Homo sapiens: one gene and its partner. The protein of the gene in region 2 purifies or fractionates together with the protein of the main gene of each other region. This does not show direct contact. Each region holds a gene or a part of one and is shown on either strand. Other genes may lie near its edges.

What was found.
Region 1: the proteins of SLC27A5 (region 2) and DYM purify together in Homo sapiens (affinity purification with mass spectrometry; one large-scale study listed by BioGRID and IntAct). This does not show direct contact.

Annotation. Positions count from the first base shown.
Region 1 is NC_000018.10:49,377,136-49,380,787, forward strand, and holds part of DYM (dymeclin), read right to left. Parts: intron 2,624-3,652; coding exon 2,530-2,623; intron 1,566-2,529; coding exon 1,432-1,565; intron 1-1,431. UniProt on the Homo sapiens protein: Necessary for correct organization of Golgi apparatus. Involved in bone development.
Region 2 is NC_000019.10:58,509,811-58,513,562, forward strand, and holds the start of SLC27A5 (long-chain fatty acid transport protein 5), read right to left. Parts: upstream 2,183-3,752; 5' UTR 2,146-2,182; coding exon 1,458-2,145; intron 1,314-1,457; exon of another isoform or gene 1,121-1,313; coding exon 911-1,120; exon of another isoform or gene 196-910; coding exon 37-195; exon of another isoform or gene 1-36. UniProt on the Homo sapiens protein: May mediate the import of long-chain fatty acids (LCFA) by facilitating their transport across cell membranes. Also catalyzes the ATP-dependent formation of fatty acyl-CoA using LCFA and very-long-chain fatty acids (VLCFA) as substrates.

The DNA of each region.
Region 1 (3,652 bases), on a different chromosome or scaffold from region 2:
AATACATTTAAATGATATAACCAGAATTTCCATAAGATTTTTGCCATCTAAAAATAGTTTTAAGAAATGCTTGAATGCACAAAAGGTTAACTTTCCACAGAATCTTTTCTACTTCCCCATAATATTGTTTTTAAAAATTCTAGGCCGGGCACGGTGGCTCATGCCTGTAATCCCAGCACTTTGGAAGGCCAAGGTGGGTGGATCACTTGAGGTCAGGAGTTCAAGATCAGCCTGGCCAACATGCTGAAACCCCATCTCTACTAAAAATACAAAAATTAGCTGGGCTTGGTGGAATGCACCTGTAGTCCCAGCTACTCAGGAGGCTGAGACAGGAGAATTGCTTGAACTCAGGAGGCAGAGGCTGCAGTGAGCCAAGATCGCACCACTGCATTCCAGCCTGGGCAACAGAGCGAGACTCCATCTCAAAAAAAATAAAAATAAAAATATAAATAAAAATTCTATAATAGAATTTAAGAAATATTCCCCATAGACATGGATATACTGAAAAATCAGTACATTGTGATGTTGACCTGGATGAACAGTAACTCTTTTATACGTTTGTTTCCCTTTGTCAATATTTGACTTTGACATTTAAAAACACGTATTTAGCAACACAGTTGAAACCACAGTGAAAAATTACTCCTAGGTATATGAAAGTGTTATTATACATATGCATGAAATCCACATAGCACACAGACCTCCATTAAAAGTATACACATCTCAAAGTTCTCTCCCAATACCTGTTCCCACAAGAGATGTTAACATATGACCTTGAATCACACAGGTGACGCTGTCAGCCTGATGAGGGCAGAGATCTATTTTGAAAACAGAACTCGGAAAACTATGGGGCAACACTGCCTTGCCCTCAGAAAGGAAAGATTGTGTGAAGGGTAATCTTTCCCTGTATCTTCAGAAAAAGATGAGACACTTTGGCATCATAAAACTGTCCTTGAAAATGTTACTTCTGATAAAGTGTCGTAGTCCCAAAGACACTCAGACCCAGAAGCTATTGCTGCACGCTATGAAAGTAACCTTTACCATAAAATCTGACTAGTTGGCTCCCTTAATAATATATTGACTTGGCAATGATATTTAAAACTGACACCTCTGTTTTCTGAAAGAAATACATATTTGTGTGAGTTTTATTTTTTATATTACTTTCTTCTTCATCCACATGCATGAAAGTCAAAATAAATGAAAGCTTCAACCCCACCAGCTTTCTTATTTAAAACGAAAAACAAAAACAAAAAACGCTTGAGTCTTGACTCATTTAAATTAACACAGAAAAAGAAAAAATGACAGTATAAGTTCATTTTAAAATGAAAATTATAAGGATAACTGGAATTTTCAAAATCATACTTTTATTCCTGAAATTTTATCCTTAAATGTTACACATGATATATCCAGAACATCTTTAAAAACAATACTTACTGTAATTGCCAGGAGATTTTTCTTCATAAGTAAAATGAAGTTGTAATTCCTCCTCTGACATCTGACAGATGAACACTTTCAGCAAACAGCAAATAATAAACAAAGCATTGTGTGTCTGCCAAATGAAGATGTGGCTAGAAAGACCAAAATCATACAAGAATCAATATTTAAACATAAGCACCATAGTTTATTTCTAGTTCATGATTTCTTCCTGATTTGACAACCGTTTTGTCCATCCTATTGGTAATATTAGGATAATGTCCATATCTTTTAATGGCTCATGATTTATTTCATTGTACCAGTGATATTATGTTTTACTTCATAGTTCATTCCATGTACTTTACATAGTGAATCTACTTAATAAAAATCTTTACTGATGACTGTAGGAATGACTGTTCTTTGTTCTTAATAGGTATACCACGTACATGCGATTAAAAGAGAAGAAAGCTACCAAAAAATTTAAAAAATTGTGGTAACATAAAAAGAATATATGCAAATATGTAACCAAAATTTTCGACGAGGCATTGCCAGCAGCACGGTAAAATACTTTTTATTTGTATTAATGACCATGAACTCCCAAGAAAAACTTTATTGGATTCAATGTAATTTGTTTATAAGCAAGACAATGCAAAATATTTTAATCTTTTCAGAGACTGACATCCAAACATGGTTTTGAAAAATGCTTCAGTGCATAAAAAGTTAACCTTCCATTGATGTAAAGAATATAACGGAAATAACTGCAACAGATGTAGAATGAAATAAAACTCAGACTAAGTCATCATTTAAACTAGATAGCAGCAGCAGTGATAATGGGGGGGAGGGGAATTACCTTCTTAACGATAATTACATCATTATTCACCTTCTTAAAGAATATAATCTAAAGATTGTCTAAAAAGCTGAAATCAGATTCCCGAATCTATAATCTCACCCCAGTGACTTAGACACTAACCTAAAACCTCTCTACCTTTTTTTCTTAATAATGAGAATAATTCCTTCACAGAGATTTTCAAAAGACCACAGTCCATTTCCATCAATAAATGAAAACTAAAATTCACATTGTTAAATATAAAGCAAACATGGTTTAATTAGCCAGCTTACTTCTGACATTCTGCTGAAAGTTTTAGTTCTTTGGTTCTAGAAAGGAAGACCTTAATTAGTGCACCAAGATTTCCTGTTCGAGGATTGTTTTCAACTGCAAGAGAAGAAAAGGTTTTAAAAAGTTAAATTTAAGAACTAAAATCAAAGTGAGCTTATCATAACATTTATAAAACCAAATGTCATATTAAAATTGCTCAGTGACCAACTTTACTGTTAATTTCATACCTAATTAGAGAACTAAGCAATGAGAGAAACTGCTGCTCTTGGTCTTAATTCTGAACATCAAAAACTGATTTGCAAAATGAAAATGATAGAAACAGTACAAGTAGCCATCTTATCTCAGAATCCAAAATCATAAAGGAAAAAATAGTTAATAGACACATTCAACTTACACACTAAATCTTTCTCTAGAAAGGAGATTTTTAAAAACTCAAAAATTGATTATCTATGTCTCCAGTATATAGAATATAATAAACTATAAAAGTTTATTAAATCTAAAACACTCTTCAGATTACAAATCATTTGAATGAAAAATTAAGAAAACATATCAACAAAGCAGTGTGGCTAGAAGGGGAGCTATTTGACCAGACAAAACTTTAAAGAATTTTTTTTTAACTTTAAACGATGGGCATTTCAGCAACTGTATCAGGAATCAGAAGATTTAGTTTCTAGATCCAGGTCTATAATTAACTGAATACTGAATCTCAGACAAATCACTGTACTTCTCCAACCTCAGTTTTCTCATCTGTAAAAGAAACAACAGCTAACATATGCTGAACAACATAGAGTAGGTGCTTTACATGCATTAACTCATTTAATCCTCACACCAACCCTCCAGGAAAAGCACTAGTATCACTTGCATTTCACCGATCCTCACCTGGAGGTTGTTACTTGCTCAAGGAAACATCCTTATCAACTGGCTCAAATCTTTGACTTTAAACTGCTAGGTTGAAGCAACCTCTATAATCAAGAAATTGGACTTAAGGAAACTATAAAGCTCTATTGGGCTGCACAGCAAGTCACAGAAGCTAAGAATTCATCAGAAGGGAGAGACTATTTTGTAGAACCTTCCATTTGACTGATGAAGAGACAGGCTCAGAAAGGCTAAGCGCTGAGCTTAAAG
Region 2 (3,752 bases):
CCTGTAGACTGGAGGGATCCTCAGAAGTGGGCTTACCGAGATCTAAGCAGCCGAGGATCCCAACGACAAGTCCCATCACGTGGTACAGAGGCAGGACCGTGTAAACCACATCATCAGCTGTGGCCCCAGATAAGGACAGCATCTTGCTCATCTGCAGTACCCGCTCATGCGTGAGGATGGCTGGCTTCGGGAGGCCTTGGGATGAAGGCATGGCAAGGGCAGGGTGGTGACATGACAGCACAGAGAGGGGCCTGACCAGAGGGATAGATCTCCAACAGCCAGGCCTACATTGGGGTTTGAGGCTCTCAGAGAACAGTCAAGTATAGGGATTTGTGGTTGGGTTCACAGGCTGAATTTGGACTGAAAGTAATATGTCAAGATCAAAGGTTTCAGTGGCTGTTTACTGGACACAGGAAGAATTCTGGCATTGACCTCTCAAATTACATTGGGGGTCAGAGTTCAGGCCAAATATCAAAATCAAGTCTGGGAGCAGTGGCTCACGCCTGTAATCCCAGCATTTTGAGAGGCTGAGTTGGGCAGGTCCCCTGAGGTCAGGGGTTAGAGACCAGCCTGGCTAACTTGGGGAAACCCTGTCTCTACCAAAAATACAAAAATTAGCTGGGCATAGTGGTGTGTGCCTGTAATCCCAGCTACTCAGGAGGCTGAGGCAAGAGAATTGCTTGAACCCAGGAGGTGGAGGTTGCAGTGAGCCGAGATTGCACCACTGCAGTCCAGCCTAGGCGACAGAGCGAGACTCTGCCTCGAAAAAAAAAACAGCCAAACAAAAAACAAATGTCAAAATCAGAGGGTAAAGTGGTTTCAGAGGTCAACACTGAGTCACAAGTCAAGTGTGGGGTCAGGTCAGCCTGAGAGTTCAGAGGCTGGTGCTAGGGCTAATGGGCACCCTCACCAGTGGTCCCCGAGGTATAGATGAAGAGGGCAGGGCTTCTCCATGTGATCCCAGCACGCAGGTCAGCAGGCACTGGGTGGGAGGGCGCTGCATCCAGGGCAGCCCCCAGAGCCCCCACCCCTGGTGTAGGGGAGGTATGGCTGAGGTAGAAGCAGCGGATGTTCTCAGCCTGCAGCTTGGGAAGGATCTCCTCCAGGCTCTCCCGGAGGTCTGCAGAGATGGGTCAGAGGAGAAACAGAGGCAAGGCTCACCTTTGAGGTTGCGAGGCGGGATCTGAGACCCACAGATGCAGGCAGAGGAGCAGCTAGTAGAGAAAAGCATCCATGTTGTTTGGTAAAGAATCCCATCATTAGTATTTTTGGTCAAATTGTGGGAAAATTAAACTCTGATGACCTGAGAACTACTTTCTGCTCATAAGTCTTGATTATAATTGCCTGTGAAAGTAGGCAGGTGGGGACCAAGGGCCTCTGCCAGTCCCAGCAGAACCCCTGTCCTATAGTCCCTGCCCTTGCCCCCTTCCATTCTCCACTGGCTCCAAGGCCCTCACCTGGGTCCACCACCAGCACCCGGGCCCCAGAGCTCAGCACAGAGTGCGCCAGGGGCATCCCCCGGCCATGCGGGTTGATCCAGGCTGTTGGGCAGCCCAGCTTGGCCAGCCCCAGCCACATACACAGGGCTGGAACGGCCTGGGAAGCCAGCACAAGGAGGGCAGTAGGCTCCCCGGCACACAGGCTCGCAGGGTCACCCAGCTCAGCCTTCAGGGCCCATGCCGCCTGGCAGGCCCGGGCATCCAGCTCACCAAAGGTGACTGAGCCGGCCCCAGGCCCCGTCCACACCAAGAGTGCCCTGCCAGGCTGCGCTCGTGCTCGCCGCTCGAAGGCATCTACAAAGGTGTCAGGCGGCTGCCGGCTCAAGCATCCCCTGATCTTCAGGCCCAGGTGGAGGATCTTGGCCAAGAAGATCACATCAGCCGGCAGCCAGCGTAGTCCTGGGGGCAGCCGTGCTGGCAGGAGGGTTAGTGCCAGGGCCGCAGCTGCCAGGCTCAGCCCATGGGGCACCCAGGGGCCGAGCCAGGGCCGTGCTAACATGGCCAGCCCAAGTAGCACGCAACATGTGGGATCCCCCAGGAGCCAGCGCAGGGTCAAGGCCACAGCGACTGGCCACACTGGCTGCCCCAGGCCCCAGAGCAGGAGCAGCAGCAGCAGCAGCAAGGCCAACTGTTGCCTGACACCCATGGTACCAGCTCCTCCCTAGGAGCAGCAGCTGTGGAGTGTTCAGGCTCACCTCTGGCCCCTCAAGAGTAGCCCAATGGCTCCTCCCCAGGGGTGGTGGCCCTGGCACTGCTGACAGTGGCTGGTCCTCTCCCCAGGACTTTGCCCCCAGCCCTTCTCCTCTACGTTTGTTTGCTCTGCCTGGTCTTGTGTGTGGGTCCAGCCCCTCTCTGCCTGGCGCTAACCCTTTCCATCACTGGCCTCTGGGTTCCCAGGTCTCTGCCCCTTGGGCACCACTAGCCTCCTTCCTGCTGTCCTGCTTGCCCCATCCACCCTCCAGGGCTGGCATCTAACTCCCTTGCCTCCCCTCCCATCCCTGCTGGGTACCAGACACTCAGAGCACAGAAATCCCTGCCCTTGGGAACACTCCAATCAGGCCAAACAGAAAAGCAACAGGACAGCAAGGTGGACCTCATTGGGAGGTCCTCCTGTGACACCCACTGAAACCCTGAGGAGAGGGGCTCAGCCAGGCTAAGCCCCTTGTCCCATGATCCGAGGAATCGTACCCTCCTGCCAGGCATACAGCAAGTGCTCAGTAAATACAGGAACACTGGCATCGCCTGGATTCAAACCCAGCTCTGCCCCCCACCCATGTGCTTGCTCTGACTCTCTGCTCCACCTCTGGCTTTGACGACGATGGAGTCCTGGGGTTCAGGAGACTGAAGTCAGCCCATGATGCACACAGTTGGATCATGAAAGCCCTGGCCTCTCACCTTGAGGAAGCAGTCTCAGAAGGTGAACCCAGAGGAGCTGCCATTGGCCTAGGAGCCTGGCAGGTCAGGCTGGGGTATGGCCTGGGGCCATACCCCACTCCACCAGCTCCAAATCCTTATGGCAGGGCACCTAGGCTAGGAGCCACTATTGTGCTGAAGAGGAGAGGGGCAAAGAGTGGCTGCTCTCTCCGCTGGATGCAGGGGCCTGGGACACTGGCTGGCCAGTAGGGGTGGTGTCCCCAACCGCCCAGCAGTCAGCCCCAGGATCCCACCCCTCACTGTTTCCTGCCCCCAACACGGCCATCGGAGCCCTCCCTGAACTTTGCCCCCAGCACCAAGGGCAGATATATGGGGGCTTATATACCCTCAGTGCAACCTGGCCCCAAAGATCCCCCTGGGCTCCCCACAAGTAAGGTGCTCAGCCATGTCCATCAAGGTCGGGGAGGGGAAGTCTTAAGTCCAAAAGACCCTTAGAGCCTGACTGGAAGATCTATGGGAGGGGCCTTAAAGGTCGTGGACAGCAGCAACCAGGAGTATGATGGGGCTTTCACGTGGCCTCCCTCTCGGAGACCCACCTCAGATGTGGCCTGCCTATCCTACTCCCCACAGGACTGAGGGATCCAAGAGAACCAAGTGCTGGTTATATATGCAGCCCACCTTAGCCCCTACAGAATAGAGGTCCTAGATGGCAAAGTGGACCATCCTGTTCCTGCCCAGGACAGCCTGTGGGCCGCATGGATGCCACCCAAGAACAGGGACGCTGAACCCTGACACTCACATCTTGTCTATGAGGGCAAGGCACGCACTGATCCAGGTGCTCACAGCTTCGTGGTTTAGGCCCCATGGCCTACAGTCCTT